Regions from separate parts of the Homo sapiens genome. Here region 1 is linked to region 2. Evidence: fine-mapped expression QTL. A gene starts in region 2. The other region holds a variant in brackets. All regions are shown on one strand. Distances are between the middles of the regions.

Region 1 (8,745 bases), 120 kb after region 2:
ATGTCTTAGATATCTAAGAACAGAGATGAACCATCCATACTGTGTCCTGCCCAATTCCTGACCCACAGAATCATAAGTATATAAAATGCTTGTTGTTTTATGATACTAAGCTTTTTGGGGTGGTTTGTGATACAGCAACAAACAACTGGAACAATCATAGTTTACAAATGTTAAACTAAGTATTGAAAGTGACCTCGGCCACAATCCCAGCACTTTGGGAGCCTGAGGTGGGCGGATCACTTGAGGTCAGGAGTTTGAGATCAGCCTGGCCAACAAAGTGAAACTCCGTCTCCACTAAAATTACAAAAATTAGCTGGGCATGGTGGTAGATGCCTGTAATCCCAGCTACTCGGGAGGCTGAGGCAGGAGAATCGCTTGAACCTAGAAGGCAGAGGTTGCAGTGAGCAAAGATCGTGCCATTGCACTCCAGCCTGGATAACAGAGTGAGACCCTGTCTCAAAAAATAAATAAATAAGCAAATAAAGTGACCTCATGCTACCTCGTCGCAATAGCTCCAGTACTTAGCACAGAGGACTGGTCTTCCAGAGGCTTGATGAAAGTTTATTGAATAAAATGACTCCTGCCTTCCTTCTTCCTTCCTTCTCTTTCCTTACTATCTTCCCACTCACATTTAAAAGGAAAAGGCTGGGCGCAGTGGGTCATGTCTGTAATTCCAGCACTTTGGGAGGCCAAAGCTGGTGGATCCCTTGAGTCCATGAGTTCGAGACCAGCCTGAGCAACATGGCAAAACCCTGTCTCTACAAAGGATAAAAAAAATCAGCTGGGTGTGGTGGCAGTTACTAGGGTTGCTGAAGTTGGAGGATCACTGAAACCTGGGAGGTGGAGGTTGCAATGAGCTGAGATCACGCCACTGCACTCCAGCCTGAGCGACAGAGTGAGATCCTGTCTCAAAAAATAAATAAATAAAACAAAATAAAATAAAATAAAAGAAGCCCAAATGCTCAAAGTTCTGAAATGATACTCTAGGAGCTGATTTTCAGTTGCTCAGGGGACCAGGGAAGAATTGGGCCTCATGGGTGGTGGATGGCCAGATCTCAGAGGGTTCTAGCTTCTTCCTATTCCAAGTCCCTCCAAGGAACTCCCTTGATTGGAGATGAGGCTGTGGCTTTAAGGAACTTATCTCTGATAATAATTCCAAGGGTAAAGCTCTGGGGCACTGTGTGGGTTTTGGGAATACAGCAGCTAAGCTACGATGTTATGAGGAATTTGGAAGGAGGGAACTCTCTGGGTGCCAACAGGCTATCTGGCCTTTGGCATGTCCTCCCCTCTCTGGCCTCAGTTTCCTTTTAATGAGTCTCCTTTGCCAAAGCCCACTCTGGGAAAAACCTGAGGTCATTAAAAATGGAATCTGGCAATGGCCCAAAATGCTGGAAACAAATTCACCCCTCTGATGCTTCAAATTCTTCAGAAAATGTGGGCTGACACTGGAAAGAGCAAGTCACAAAACGGTCCGTACAGAACATTCTCTGTTTGTAACTTTATCCAGCCTCCCTGTATAGAACCAAGGTGGTGAAGGCTACTTGCCAATGTGTTATCTGTGGTTATCTGAGTTGGCAGGAGGAAATTATTCTGGGTAATTTTTATTTTCTTTTTGTGTGCTTCCAGATTTTCTACAATGAACATCTATTACTTTTGATAATCAAGAAATTAAAAAAGTTTAAAAGCAGGCCTTTTGGCACATGCCCTTTGTCATGCTCAGTAAGTACACAAGTTGCTTCTGGGTAGAAGTAAAAAAGAGAGGAATCATCCATGCAGCCTTGTGGGTGAAGACTGTGGGGTTTTCTAATTTATTGGTTTTCCCTTGCTATACAACAAATTACCACAAACTTAGTGGCTTAAAACAACACACATTATCTCACAGTTTCTGTGGGCTGGGAGTCCAGGCATGGCTTAGCCGAGTCCTCTGCTCAGGGACCCACAAGGCTACAGTCAAGATGTTGGGTGGGCTGTGTTCTCATCTGGATGTTTGAATGGGGAAGAATCCACTTCCAAGCACACTCAAGTTGTTGGCAGAATTCAGTTCCTTGGAGCTGTGGGACAGAGGGCCCCAGCTTCTTGCTGTCCTTTGCTTGGAAGCCACCCTCAGATCTATACCCACAGTTTCTTGCCATTTGGGATTTCCCAACATGTCCACTTTCTTTAACAAACCAGCAAGGAGAGCTTCTAGAGCAAGACACTATTTTTTTTTTTTTTTTTTTTTTTAAGCAGGGTCTTGTTCTGCCACCCAGGCCAGGCTGGAGTGCAGTGGCATGATCTTGGGATCACTGTAACCTCCACCTCCTGGGTTCAAGTAATTCTCCTGGCTCAGCCTCCTGAGTAACTGGGACTACTGGCACACACCACCATGCCCAGCTGATTTTTTTTTTTTTTTGTATTTTAGTAGACACAGTGTTTCACCATGTTGGCCAGGCTGGTCTCGAACTCCTGACCTCAAGTGATCCATCTGCCTTGGCCTCCCAAAGTGCTGGGATTACAGGCGTGAGCCACCATGCCCAGCCAAGACAACATTTTCTAAAAGGAAATCATAAAACCCACCTTAAGGGGAAGTCAATTGAAAGGGAAGGGATGACACAAAGGTACTGTTATGGACTGAATATTTCAGTAAAATTCACATTGAAGCCCTAACCCTCACCCCCACAGTGTGACTATATTTGAAGATGAGCCTCTAAGGATGTAATATTAAATGAGGTCACAAGGGTGAGGCCCTGATCTGATAGGATTAGTGACCTTGTAAGAAGAGCTCTTTCTCTATGTGCATGCACCAAGTAAAGCCATATGAGGACATATTGAGAAGGCAACCATATATAAGCCAGAAAGAGAGCCCTCAGAAACCAAGGCAGCTGATCACCCTAATCTCAGATTTCCAGCCTCCAGAAGTGTGAGAAATTAATTTCTGTTGTTTAAACCACTCAGTCTGTGGTATTTTGTTATGGCAGCCTGAGATGACTAAGATAGATGTGAACACCAGGAAGCATGGATCATTGGAGAGTGGTGGGGGTAAGAACACCTTTAAGCCTGTCTGCCACTTAATATTGTGAGGTTGGCTGGAATTCCAGATAGAAATTCCAGAAGCTAAGGTTCTCCTCAGAGGTTTTCATTCTGTAGGCCAGTGTGAGGCTTGCGAAGTTCTGAATGAACTCTCTGAAGGTGATCTCAATGATGGTGGCAGGTGGCCTACATCTGGGGAATAGATCAGGCAGCTTCAAATCCTGGCCCTGCCACTTCCTAGCTATAGAACCTTAGATTAATGGCTTCTTTCAGCCAAAGTTTCTTCATCTGATGTTGCCTGGCAAGTTATTAAAGGAAAATATAAAACACTCTCTGGTGTAAGCAGCTCTTATCTCCAGCCCAGCCCCAGCAAAAGGAGGCTGATGATATTGCTGTCTCATACCCCATCTGGAGATGTCCTTAGTATTCGGTGTTTCAGGGCCATGCAAAGATTTGAAATAAGAAGGGGACAGGATTTGAGGATGTTCAAAACATGGAGGAGACCTAATTCTTGCTTGTCCTTACAGCTGGAGAAGGTGAGTGTCCAGGTGTATATCTGAAGTCAGTTGGGGGACTGGACTGAAGGAAGAGCCAGTGTCTCTGGACACCAGAAGGAAGCGTCCTGGGCATGATGTCTAATAGCAGGTGAAGGAGGTGCTTTTTTTCCATGTGGTGACCACCATGGGAGGTGCCTT[A/T]GATTTTTGTCATCACAGAGTCATGGCTGGGGGTAGGGCGGTGTGAGCAAGTAGACTCAGGGCGGCATGAAATAACCTATAAAGGTATGGGAAACTTCTTGCGCTAGGGCTATGGAATAAAATTCATACCTGAAACATGTCAAATGAGATGACGTGTGTAAATTGCAGAGTTGTGTCTGGCACATGCTAAGGGTTTGATAAAAGAAAGCTACTATTCTGTTATCAACATCTCCTAGTTGAGTGGCTAAAAAGCCTCTGTTCTTATTCATCCACCATCATGGGTCCATTGTTTTCCAGGTTGAAGAAGATATATGGCTCAGAGAATGAGGTTTTGGTAGAAGCCTGCGTAGAAGATCATTTATATGGAGGGGATCCTCATACAGTGGATAAAAGCAGAGATCTTAGTTCCATTCCCAGCCCTAATCAGTTATTAACATGTATTGTAATAATGTTACAGAATGCTGTCCAGAATTGGGAGACGGGGTGGTATGGGTGTGTTTTAGATGCTTAACCAAAGGATATTTGAGCAAAATATACCATCAGGGCTAGATTACTGGGCATGCAACCTGCGGAGTCACACAAGCCTCCATACTTAAAAGGGCCCTGCTCCCAGAAGGGCCTCACATTTGTTTTGTGCTCTATTGTCACCTTCTTGAAATTCTTAATGATTTTTGAACAAGGGACCCCGCATTTTCATTTTGCACTAAACCCAACAATTTATGTATATGTCCTGTATACCACATCTTGATCTGAGTTCTTAGCAGCAATCTGAATGTGAAGTTTCCAAATTTCTTACAGCCCTTTATCTTCTATGAGTCTTGATAGATGTTGAGCAACTTCCTCCTTATGAAATTTCACAAGGCAGGGGTAGAATATGGACACTATAGGTTTAGGGGAAGGGGAAGGAGTCAGAGCCAGGGAGAGTGTGTGAGGATCCCCTCCACATAGGGCACCCAAAGATGTATAAAAGGAAGTGGTTTCCTGTAAGGCCTAGGTGGAAGACACATGGAAATCTGACTCAAATTTTCCAAGTGGAAGAAAGACCAGGAAATGAGAGAGGCAAGGAAAGAAGGGAATAAGCAGGTTCTGCCTCTCCTTCTTAGGCTGTTAGGTCCTAAGGACAAGCACAGAGGTGAAGCAAGAGTATGTGGTTATCATCAAAGGGGTCCACAGGGCTGTCAGGACACAATGCTATTGGAGCAGGGTTCTTTGCCTTAAAAGAGGGTACTGGGAGAGGTATCTTGGCGAAGAGCTATAAACACAGCAGCCTCAGCCCTCATTCCCTTTTTGGGTGCTCCAGGCACAAGGAAACAGCAATCCATTTGGCGAAGTGCTAAGAACAACTTGGTATCAATTTGCTTTTCGGCCAAAGCCAAGGATACTTGCTATTATAGACTCGAGGTTTCTTGAAACTTTTCCACATTCATTTTTGATCACTGTGAGTTTTCCCATAGTTAAACATAATGTAGCATCTCAAAGTGGTTGGGGTTGGGGCTTGCTTTGGGCCAGAAAGGGATGGGAGAAGCTGCATAACTCAACCCCGTTCTTCTGTAGGACCTGCAACGAAGCCTGTTCTACTACAGGCTGCCTTTCATCAAGACCTCTTCTAGGTCCTGTCTTTGGGGCTGGTTTCCAGGGCTGTCTCATGTGTGCATGTGCATGTTTACGTGTTGCTCTGAACTCTGATTTCATTCTTGATTTGTCATACACTTTCCAAAATTTGTGGTATAACTTAAGTGATTACATTGGAAAATGAATATTGTAAAATACACACAGAATATACTGCAGTATAATTGTGCTGGTCACAAGGCAAACAGAGATTTAAAACATCAGTTCATAGTGCACTCCAGGTGTTTGTTCTTAGGATAGGACGCAAGTTGAATGTCATTTTGAGGACCATCATTGTTGTGTTATGAGCATACCAGTAAATATTTATGACTGGAGCCTGAGTTCGTTGGTTCTCCTGTCTCGCCACCTCCATGGAAGCCATGTTCTATGTATGTCTCCTGAATCCTAGAAGACCTAAAACAGCCTCTGATCTTCTCTGGCCAAACCATCTTCTCTCCAACTCCAAAGAGTTCCAGGCATCATCTGAACTTGAGAAATCAGACTCTTGTCCAAAGAGGCCAAGTGTTGAATCAGGCAAACGTGATTCTGCTCTTTTTTTTTGAGATGGAGTGTCGCTCTATCACCCAGGCTGCAGTGCAATGGCACGATCTTGGCTCAGTACAATCTCCACCTCCCGGGTTTAAGTGATTCTCCTGCCTCAGCCTCCCGAGTAGCTGGGATTACAGGCACCCACCAACATGCCCAGCTAATTTTTATATTTTTGTAGAGATGGGGTTTCACCATGTTGCCTGAGCAAATGGCAATTGTTAGCAATAATGCTGTTAAGGCAACAATATCCTGGAAGACTTAGCTCAGCCAGCCATTCCCTTGCCATTTTTAACCACAGCACAACTGCTGGTGTCAATGACATGCACATGCTATCACATTCAATTTGTTTTATAAGGAAAAGCAATTTCTTATTTACCCCACCACCCTCAGAAATGCTGTCGACAGAAAAACATGTCACATTCCCTTTCTCTCATGGGCTGAGGTCCTTGGATGCCACTCATGCCAGTTGGCCAGTTAGCAAATGTGGTAGGAGGCCTGGATTAAGAAGGTCCAATTCTCATTCATAGAAATATGGCCTTTCTTGGGCAGATCACTTGAGGCCATGAATTTGAGACCATTCTGGCCAATATAGTGAAATCCTGTCTCCACTAAAAATACAAAAATTAGCCAGGTGTGGTGGTGCACGCCTGTAATCCTAGCTACTCGGGAGGCTGAGGTAGGAGAATTGCCTGAACCCAGGGGACGGAGGTTGCAGTGAGCCGAGATTGCACCACTACACTCCAGCCTGGATGACAGAGTGAGACTCCATCTCAAAAAATTAAAAAAGAAAAAATGAAACATGACCTCTGTCATCTCTATCAGAGCAGGTGAACAGTCCTGGGAGCCTGGGCACACTCCACAGGGATAAATGGCTTACCACTGCACTGACTGCATCAGATCAAGGTCCCATACCCTCAATTGCTACTTGTTATTAAAAAAAAAAAACCGTAGGTTTGTTTCAGTCAGAGTCCTGGTCCTTTACACCAACAATAATAAAAGGTATTTTTCTGCTTAGGTGTAATTCCAAACAATTAGAATATCCCAGAAGCCCTCACAGTTTTATCCCAGGTTGCCATCCCAAACCAGTAGGTCTCCATGTCTTAAAGTAGCCGAAATAAGACCCAGTCATTAGGTCAGGGAAATGGGCTGAAGCTAGATCAACAATTACATCAAGAGTGGAACACTGAGAATCTTAAGGACTCCTGGGCTCATCTTTGCCATTCTCCTGAGTCAACAGAAGTGGAACAGAAACAGCAGAATTAGGCCGGATGCAGTGGCTCACTCCTGTAATCCCAGCACTTTGGGAAGCCGAGGCAGGCAAATCACCTGAGGTCAGGAGTTCAAGACCAGCCTCATTCTCAGATGAGCAACCTCCTTGTGGTGGCAAGAGGGCTGCCAATAATGCCAGTCTTGCAACCTTACAGTTCTAAATTCAATAGATTAAAAAGGAAATTCCCCCACCTCCATTAGCTCTATTTGTGTAAAACTGGCTTGGCTTAGATAATAAACTCACTCCATATCCAACTACCCTGACCAAGGCGCTGCAGTGCTCTGGTCGGTCCGAGTTACATGCTCAGTCCTGGAGCCAGGGGTAGTGAACAGACAGAAAGTGAAGGAGGGTTGGAAACTCAGAGCGCAACTAATATTCTCTTATCAAAAGAAGTGAAGATAGATACTGAGTAGACAAAAGCAATGGATGTCCATAACAGTGAGACTCTGAGAGCATAAAGGAGGGCCACTGAACTAATAAAGAGACCAATTTATTAATTTATGATTTTTTTCTTGAGACGGATCTCACTCTTGTTCCCCAGGTTGGAGTGCAATGGTGCGCTCTCAGCTCTCAGCTCACTGCAACCTCCGCCTCCTGAGTGGCTGGGATTACAGGCACCCACCACGCCTGGCTTAATTTTTGTATTTTTAGTAGAGACGGATTTTACCATGTTGGCCAGGCTGGTCTAGATGTCCTGACCTAAAGTGATCTGCCCGCCTCGGCCTTCCAAAGTGCTGGGATTACAGGCGTGAGCCACTGTGCACAGCCCTATTAATTTATGATTAAAGATATGTGGCTGGTTCATGACCCAACCAGTCATCTACTCTTAGTGAGTCCAGCTAGGGGCAGGTTGATTCAGTAGTATAAAATCAGAACGGATGGAATCAGATGTTCCTAAGAAATATTTCCAGCAAAATATTTATGGGCAGACTACGTTCAGTTGTGAGGCAGAGAAAAACCTCATATACTAATGATGTCAAGAAGACAGAAATTAGTTTTGTAAACGAGGTCCAGAGATAAGCAGTTCAGGCCTGGTAAGGTGGCTTCACATTCATCAGGAATCTAGGCTCCTTCTAACTTGTTGCTCCATCGTCACTGGCACAGAGTGCCTTCTCCTTTATGGTCCAACAGTGACAAATTCCAGTCATGGAATTCTAGTCAGCGGGGTGAAGCCTACATTCTAGTCAGGAGGGTGAAGGAAGGAGATGGGCTCACTCCTTTTTAAGGATAAGTCCTATAAGTTACTCAGGTCCCACTGGCTAAAATTTAGTTAGTGGGTTACACCTGCCAGGGAAACTGAAAAATGTGTTTACTCTGGGAAGAACAAATACAGGGAGACAACACATCTTTGTTAGAAGTGGCACCCTAGTGGACAACCCTTTCTCTGTCGTAGGGAGTGGCCTATTCAAAGGCTGAGGGCCAGTCACCTGGAACCCATGCATCTACAAAAGGCAACCCTGGATATAAAAGAGTTAACCAACTGTTACTCTTTGTTGCCCTCTTTTTTGATCCCTTAGCATATGCTAACTTGAAAAAGTCTAGGTACAATTTAATTGCTTTAAAAATTATATTTATGGCTCACACCTGTAATCCTAGCACTTTGGGAGGCCGAGG
Region 2 (8,745 bases):
ATGTGTTAACCCCTTTATCCTGCCAATCCCAACAGGGTACACAATATTGCATCACCACAATGTGTGCTCTGGGAAGTAAAAACCTTGATTGGAATTTTTGTCCAAAGAAATAAAAAGGCCAGGTGGAGTGGCTCACACCTGTAATTCTAGCACTTTGGGAGGCTGAGGCAGGAGGATCACTTGAGACCAGGAGTTTGAGACCAGCCTGGTCAGCAGCAAGACCCCGTAATCTACTGAATAAACAAACAGCGCAAACAGGGATTCCCTAGGGTTCGGTTTTCCTATCTCTTTTTTTCTACAACCAAATTGGTTTATTACAGGAATGCAAGGTTTAACATATGAAAATCAGTTCACATATTTTACCACATTTAATAAAATAAAGGAGAAAAACCACATGATCATCTCAATAGATGCAGGAAAACATTTGACAAAGTTCAACATCCATTCATGATAAAAGCTCTAAGAAAAATAGAAATAGAAAACTTTCTTTTACAAAAGGCACCAGTAACAAACCTACAGCAAACATGATCGTTTAAAGATGATATCTGGAAAAAGACAATTATCAGTTCCAGTCAACATTGTACCAGAGGCCCCAGACCGTAAAATTAAGACAGTGCAACGAAACAAAACCAAGGTATAAGGACCAGAAAGGAAGAAAACCACTTTTATTTCCAGATGATATAATATGCATATGTAGAAAATAAAAAAAAATATCCAGTTAAACTATTAGAGTAAGAAAATTCAGTAAGGTCACTGGCTGCAAGGTTAATATACAAAAATCAATTGTCTTCCTATATGCTACTACCAAGCAACTTGAAAATGAATATGTAAAAACAATAGAGTTTGTAATGCTATAAAAAATTAAATACCTAGGAGTAAATCTAATGAAAGATATGCAAGATATTTATTCTAAAAACCACAAAATATTATTGAAGGAAATTAAAGAAGACCTATAGAAATGGAGGGACTTACTATGTTCGTGGAAGAAAAGTCACAATAATGTAAAGCTGTAGAGTCTCCCCACATTGATTTCCCCAGTGGGAATCTGAAATCCTGATAGAAATTTGGAAGGTTTTTCTGTGGAGGTTGACGAGCTGGCCCTAAATTGTACCTGGAAGTGTGAAAGGCCAAGTATAGTCAAGACAACCTTCAAGAAGAACAAAGCTAGACTGCGATGGCTTACTGAGGCTGTGGGATCACACATGGCCCTCACCACAGGAAAATGTAGGCCACAGGCCAGGCATGGTCGCTCATGCCTGTAATCCCAGTACTTTGGGAGGCCAAGGCAGGAGGATCACTTGAGCCCAGGAGTTTGCGACCAGCTTGGTCAACATGGTGAAACCTCGTCTCTACTAAAAAGACAAAAAATTAGCCGGGTGTGGTGGCCGACGCCTGTAATCCCAGCTACTTAGGAGGCTGAGGCAAGAGAATCGCTTGAACCTGGGAGGCAGAGGTTGCAGTGAGTCCGGATCATGCCACTGGACATGAGAGTGTCCAGCCTGGACAATGAGAGTGAAACTCCGTCTCAAAAAAAAAAAAAAAAAATCAGCTGGGCATGATGGTGCATGCCTGTAGTCCCAGCTACTCAGGAGGCTGAGGTGGGAGGATTGCTTGAGCCTGGGAGGTTCAGGCTGTGATTGAGCCACTGCACTCCAGCCTGGGCAACAGAGCAAGACTCTGTCTCAAAAAAAAAAAAAAAATAGCCAGCCCAGCAGCTCACACCTGTAATCCCAGGACTTTGGGAGGCCAAGGCGGGTGGATGACTTGAGGTTAGGAGTTCGAGACCAGCCTGGCCAAGATGATGAAACCCCCATATTTACTAAAAATACAAAATTAGCTGGGCGTGGTGGTGGGCACCTGTAATCCCAGCTACTTGGGAGGCTGAGGCAGAAGAATCGCTTGAACCTGGGAGGTGGAGGTTGCAGTGAGCTGAGATCGTGCCACTGCACTCCAGCCTGGCTGACAGAGCAAGACTCTGTCTCAAAAAAACAAACAAACAAAAAAACAAAAAAAAATGGGCCAGGCGCAGTGGCTCACACCTGTTATCCCAGCACTTTGGGAGGCTGAGACGGGCGGATCATGAGATCAGGAGATCAAGAACATCCTGGCTAACACAGTGAAACCCCATCTCTACTAAAAATACAAAAAAATTAGCTGGGCGTGGTGGCGCGTGCCTGTAGTCCCAGCTACTCGGGAGGCTGAGGCAGGAGAATTGCTTGAACCCGGGAGGCGGAGGTTGCAGTGAGCCGAGATCAGGCCACTGAACTCCAGCCTGGGCAACAGAGCGAGACTCCGTCTCAAAAAAAAAAAGAAAGAAAGAAAGAACAAAGCTAGAGGACCAACACACAACCAGATGTCAAGTCTGACTATAAAGCTATAGTTAATAAGACAGCGTAGTTAGACAAACCCACTGAAGGACTAGAATAGGGTATGATATTCAGAAGTAGACTCCCATATATTTATATGGTTACCTATTTATTTATTTATTTATTTTTGAGACAGTCTCTGTCGCCCAGGCTGGAGTGCAGTGGTAGGATGTCGGCTCATTGCAAACTCTGCCTCCCAGGTTGAAGTGATTCTCCTGCCTCAGCCTCCCAAGTAGCTAGGATTACAGGCGCCCACACCACGCCCAGCTAATTTTTGTATTTTTAGTAGCGATGGGGTTTCACCATGTTGGCCAGGCTGGCCTCGAACTTCTGACCTCAAGTGATCTACCCACCTCGGCCTCCCAAAGTGCTGGGATTACAGGTGTGAGCCACCACGCCCGGCCGTGGTTGCCTATTTATATATAACAGAGGTAACGCGGCAGAGTAGCAATGAAAAAGACAAGATTTTTAATTGAATTGGATAGCCACATTAAAAAAAAAAGTAAATCCTGACTCCATAAATTTAACCCAGCTGATTTAAGACCCTGTTGTGGCCTATCAGCTGTAACCCTCCTTGCATTTTCCCACCTTTGAATAGCAAATTCCTTTCCTCACCCCAGGTCAGAAAGTCTGCTCAGCAGTAGCTGTGGATGGTAAGAAGACACGCTGGTAGGTCTCAGTGGCTCCCAGAAGCCGCACCCCCTCCACCGAACCTCACTCCTCATCTCCCACGCTCCAAAGCGAGGAGTCCTCAGAAAGCCAGTTTCCCTTATTTATTCTTCTTTCTTTCTTTCCTTTTTTTTTCTTGGATGTCCTACCAGTTTCCCTATCTTAAAGTCGCAGGTTCGGCTCAGAAACTCCAGTGTCCCTCAGCGTCTCGCCGGCACCCTCTGCCGGCGTGAGGTGGCGCTGCCTGGCCGCATCCTGGGGGAGCGTCCACATCCTCGGTCGACAAAAGGAGCGTCGACACTCTCGGACCTGGGAAAGTGACGGCCCAAACGCCAGGGAGGAGCCAGGACCTCGCCCTGAGCTAGCGGGAGGTAACGGCGGGGAGTCCTGGGGCGGAGACCGAGCGCTGGGGGCGTGGTCTCCAGCGGGACTGGGCCTCTAGCGGGAGTGGGGGCGGGGGCGGGGGCGGGGCCAGCCTGGGGGCCCAGACGTGGCGCAGCGACTCGGAGGTTCGCCTCCAGCTTGCGCATCATCTGCGGCCGGGTCCCGATGAGCCTCCTGTTGCCTCCGCTGGCGCTGCTGCTGCTTCTCGCGGCGCTTGTGGCCCCAGCCACAGCCGCCACTGCCTACCGGCCGGACTGGAACCGTCTGAGCGGCCTAACCCGCGCCCGGGTAGAGGTGAGTACGCCGGCCTCCAGCCCCGGCACTATCGTTCCCCAACCCTGCGGCCCCATGGGAGCACCGTCCGTCCCGGCCCCAAGACCACCTCGAACCGCGAGTCTCCCTGCTTTCCCCCTGGCGCCGGGACCATCCCTCCTGTTCCCTAGCCCCAGATGGCCCCAGCATCCACCGTGGAAGCCTGAGACACCGACTTTGGGGCCTGGAACTCCGAACCCTTCCCCAGCTCCCCCTACCCGGTCCGACAGCGGACACCCAGACACACTGACGCAGTCTCCTAACTCTTCTCGTGGCCTATGACTCCCAATCCTGTCCCAACTTCCCATCCCCCATCACTTCATGTTTTCCTGGAATTCCCCCCCGACCCGGTTCCAGGGCTGGAGGCTCCAGAAAGTCTCTTTTCCTTCTCCTGGGGGGAAAGAAGACTTTCTGGGTGCCTCCTCCCATATGCAGGATCCGGGGAAGGGGGCCAACTCGGAGGGGCAACCGAGTTGGGAACTTGGTTGCCAACATTTACTCTGCAGCAGCCTCCCATCCTCCCCCAACCAGGAAATTCCCGTTCGGAGTCCCTGTCTTGCTATGTGACTTTGACCATCACAGCCCGCCTCTGAGCTTTTTGTCAGCTCTGTCTGACAAAAGGGTGTAGAATGGTTGGGTGCCGGTGGTGCACGCCTGTAATCCCAGCACTTTGGGAGGCCAAGGCAGGAGGATTGCTTGAGCCCAGGAGTTCAAGACCAGCTTGGGGGACATAGTGAGACCCTGTCTCTAAGAAAAGGGCTGAGGGTAGGATGGAGGAGGGCTGGAGTGGGTGGTCCTGGGGTCTAGACTCCTGCTGGATGGTGGCATCTCCTCAGGGAAGGCAGGGAGGAGCCCTCCCATCCTCCCATGTCAGGGAAGCAACCACATGGTCTGTGGGGCTGGGCCGCAGGTGGCAGGCAGGGTGAGGTCTGCCTGTGTAGAGTAGGGACCAGATGGTAGGTGTCTCCAATGGGGGCCCCCAGGGCCATTCTGAGGTGTTTCCTTCTGCTCTGCCTCCACTGTGAGATTTCAGGGATCAAAGGCCAAGCCCAGGTCTCTACTGCTTAAGAGGAGCAGGGTGATCATTTCCCCTGGGCATTGGGAGTCAGTCCACAGCCAGTAGGATGTACAGGCCCCAAGGCTGGCAGGCACACTGTGGGTCTCTGGCCTTGCTCTTTTCCCCTGGTGTCTCTAGGCCTGAGTCTCCCCACCTGTATACACAGTTCCCCCTTCTGCCCACAAGGGTCCAGCATTTCCTTCAGACCTTGGGAACTGCTGATCCGGGGATAACTCACAGCCCGACCCAACTCAGGGATAAGGAAGTATGGCTTTGGGGATGTGACTGGAATAAACGTGAAGGACTCCTGACCTATCCCATTTTATCCCCCTCCAGACCTGCGGGGGATGACAGCTGAACCGCCTAAAGGAGGTGAGTTTGAAGGAAGAGGTCCCTAGCTCTGTTCCCCCTGAGCCTCTTGGGGAGTGGGCAACATGGTCCCAATGACTGGGGCGGGGAGGGGGGAAGGATCCCTAGGCTGAGAGTCTAGCCTAGGCTGAGAGTCTAGCCTGCACCTGACTTGCTTTATGACCTCACTGGGCTTCAGTGTCTCGTCTGTACCTCGAGTAGACTGAGGTCATGGTCTCTGATGCTCTGGTTCCTCCCCAGGTGAAGGCTTTCGTCACGCAGGACATTCCATTCTAGTATCCTTCTGTTCTGGGGGAGGGGAAATGGGATGGGCACCTGGGAGAATCTCCACGTAACTTCAGAAAGGGGTGGCAGATGGTTTTCAACTGACAAGTTGAATTGATTGGTAGTGGCTCCCAGAGGATTCTGAGGTGGTCTCCATGTTGGGTGGGCAAGAGAGATTGACTAGTGATGACTGCCACAGAATGGAGAGGAGGGCCCTTTACTTCTTTGAACCCTAATTTTCTCACGTATAAGCGGAGACCCTGGCCCCTCCCGGGCACAGAGTAAGCTCTGAGCAAAGGAGGCAATGCTGTTCCCATCAGTAAGGCTGCGGAAACCACCACCTCCCTCTGCCCACCACCCCGCTCCTTAACACCACCTCCAGTCACAACCTGGTGATGAAACACCTCCCTGGGGCCGACCCTGAGCTCGTGCTGCTGGGCCGCCGCTACGAGGAACTAGAGGTGAGGCCGTGGGAGGTGGGCTGGGGGCGAGGCCAGAGGCGAGGCCCAGCCTGCTGACCCCGCCCCTCCTCCGCCTCAGCGCATCCCACTCAGTGAAATGACCCGCGAAGAGATCAATGCGCTAGTGCAGGAGCTCGGCTTCTACCGCAAGGCGGCGCCCGACGCGCAGGTGCCCCCCGAGTACGTGTGGGCGCCCGCGAAGCCCCCAGAGGAAACTTCGGACCACGCTGACCTGTAGGTCCGGGGGCGCGGCGGAGCTGGGACCTACCTGCCTGAGTCCTGGAGACAGAATGAAGCGCTCAGCATCCCGGGAATACTTCTCTTGCTGAGAGCCGATGCCCGTCCCCGGGCCAGCAGGGATGGGGTTGGGGAGGTTCTCCCAACCCCACTTTCTTCCTTCCCCAGCTCCACTAAATTCCCTCCTGCCTTAACTGAGGCTCGACTCCTTCGTTGCTGCGGGCGGGTGGGGTGGGAGGTCGGAAGAAGAACCTCTGAGGATCCCTGCTGGAGTTGGAGACCTTGCGGAGCTGCCTTCGGTTCAAACCCCCTCCCCACCCCCAGGAGACGCAGAGAGGAGTCAGGATCGTTGAAAACCAATAATTTATCAAAACGCTGCGTGTGTATGTGGGGGGGAGGGTGTCGCAACAGACAGGGCAGCGGTGGGCGGACGCACAGGCAGGAGACGGTGCCCGGAGAGTGGGGGCGGCAGCTTGCCACTGGCTGGCCATGCGGGCGGGCAGGCTAGACATTCTTGCCGCGCAGGCGCAGTTCGTGGCGTCGCAGGTGGTTGTAGAGCGACTGCACATAGGTGAAGACACACTTGGGGTCAGGCTTCTTGCCCATGATCATCATGTCGTCCACCTCCACCAGGGGCACACAGTCCACCAGCATCCTGCAGGGAGGGGGCACGGGGTTGGATGTCAGCGCCAGACCCGCCTCTCGTGGCGCCCCTCTACCCCAAGGTCTTTTTTATTGCCGCATTGCCTGCTGGTCTTTCATAAACTCCAGACAGGGAAAAGCCTTCCAGGAAGGCAGGAAGCCCCTGGCTTCATCTACCCAAGCCTGGAGGCATCTCTCGGGGCGGGGGAGCAGAGCTAGGCAGGTGGAGGCGGAGATGGCAGAAGAGAGCCCCATCCCAGTCAGGCAGGTCCTGGGTCTGCTTCCTCCAACCCTGGGGAGGTGCTGGCTCCAAACCCTGCCCATGTTCTCCCTGGAGACCACCTTCTGCTCACCCTCACTGGCACACTCCAGTTGGTAGAAGCCTCTCAGCTCGGCCTTTGCACCCAGATGGGCTTCATCACTGGCCAATCTTTATCTATGGATAGGTCTCACTCTAGTGGCCCTGTGGTCCACCGATGATTGTCTGCTAGCTGCCTGATCTGGTACTTCCTGTTGAGAGGCCCAGGGACCCCTATTCTTTGACAGGGGGTGGGGATAACCCTGCTGCTGGAGATGGAGGCCAGGGAACGTGTGGGCAGCAGAGGGGTTCTCTAACCCTTATCACCTGCCTTGGGTAGAGCAGAGGAGGCAGATGAGGATCCCAGCCAATACCAATGGACCATCTATGCCATGCTCGGGGGGACCACCCTTCTGGCCATCCTTCAGAATGCTAGCTGCCCTTCACAGATAAGGAAACTGAGTCACAGAGCAGAGGAGCCATTTGTTTCAAGCCCCATGGCTTAGTAAGTGCAGGCTAGGCCGCATGGGACCCAGGCCCCCAGTTCTGGGTGTTGGCAAAGCCTTTTCCCCACTCTGGAGTGAGTGGGTTGTGCCTATTAAGCAACTGACAGCTCCCAGAGCTCTGAAGCTGGAGTCTGCTCTCTGGCTCCTTTTCCCCTGTCCCTCAACCCCCAGAGCAAGACCTCTTCTGCCTTGATCCCTCCTATCTGCCATACCTGGGACATAGCAAGCATTCAATGTTGCTGAATGAGTTTCCTATGGCAGGGAAGGCATAATGGCAACAATTGCTCCTTATTCTCAAGACACCTGAGAACCCAAGACCACCTCCCATCTCGTGCCCTTATGGACAAACTCAGAACTGTGGTAGGGCTGGGCCTACCCCCAGCTCACCTGGACTCCTTCAGAGAAGAAACCTGGGAGGCAGAACACCGAACACCTCTGTTTTAGTCCAGACTGTATCCCTAACCAGTTGTGGGTGCTAGATAAGGCCCTTTTCTATGACTGTTTCCCCCTCTTTAGAACAGGACAGTTATTCTCTATCTCATTTGAGACCTTACAAGAATTTAGGATGAGTGAGAGGGTTCTGGGTCTGCTGCTGATGTGCCACGTGCCCCTAGGGTCATCCCTATCCCAGACTGGGCTTGTTTCCCGAGCTGTACCATGATGCAAAGGCAGCCTCTCTCTGAAGCTTCTTCCAGCTGTGGCTATCGTCCTGGGGATCCCGACCGCCCTCTCCAACCTGGTGCTCCCTCCCGCCCCACTCCCTTCCCTGGAGACCTTATAAAGCCATTGTTTACACTGGGGCTCAGGGCTCAGGGCTCAGGCTGCCCCAGTGACAGGCCAAACACCAGGCAACTTGAGCAACAGCACGGCTGAGTCACACTTTCCAACTGGATCAGGGCTGGGCTGGGCCCCTCTCCCTCCAAGCTGGCTTGCTGGGCAGCAGCTCCTAAGTCCATATATGATCTGGAGATAGCACCAAGCCCATCCGCCACTCATCTGTGCTCCTTCTCTGAGTGTGTGTGTGCACATGTGGACTGCCCCCCACAATGGCTCCAGGCCCTGAGGGGCATCTGAGTGTGCCCCTACCTGTCACTGACTCACATTCCTTCAGCCAATCCCCTTGCTCCTTCTGGGCCTCTATTTTCAATCCTCTCTACAAAATGGGCGGGAACACAGTGAT

The links. PIP is the estimated chance that this variant, and not a neighbour inherited with it, causes the effect.
Region 1: its variant is fine-mapped to the expression of SELENOM in fibroblasts (GTEx, PIP 0.94).

Annotation. Positions count from the first base shown.
Region 1 is chr22:30,985,531-30,994,275 of GRCh38, reverse strand. No RefSeq gene overlaps it. Among named protein-coding and RNA genes, the nearest start is that of TUG1, 21 kb to the right of the region's middle. The variant A/T (reference allele first, on the strand shown) is at 3,705.
Region 2 is chr22:31,102,345-31,111,089 of GRCh38, reverse strand. SELENOM (selenoprotein M) reads left to right here and starts at 3,522. Exons shown (of 5, transcript NM_080430.4): 1 at 3,522-3,713; 2 at 5,125-5,160; 3 at 5,398-5,432; 4 at 5,804-5,882; 5 at 5,962-6,313. The coding sequence starts at 3,585. The coding sequence ends at 6,120. SMTN (smoothelin) reads right to left here. Exons shown (of 21, transcript NM_134269.3): 21 at 6,466-6,774. LOC105372995 (a long non-coding RNA gene) reads left to right here. Exons shown (of 3, transcript XR_938163.3): 2 at 2,987-3,019; 3 at 3,204-3,454. It overlaps LOC124905100 (a long non-coding RNA gene), which reads right to left and starts at 3,208. Exons shown (of 2, transcript XR_007068063.1): 1 at 2,982-3,208; 2 at 638-1,111. RefSeq lists enhancers at 4,066-4,838, 6,338-7,288.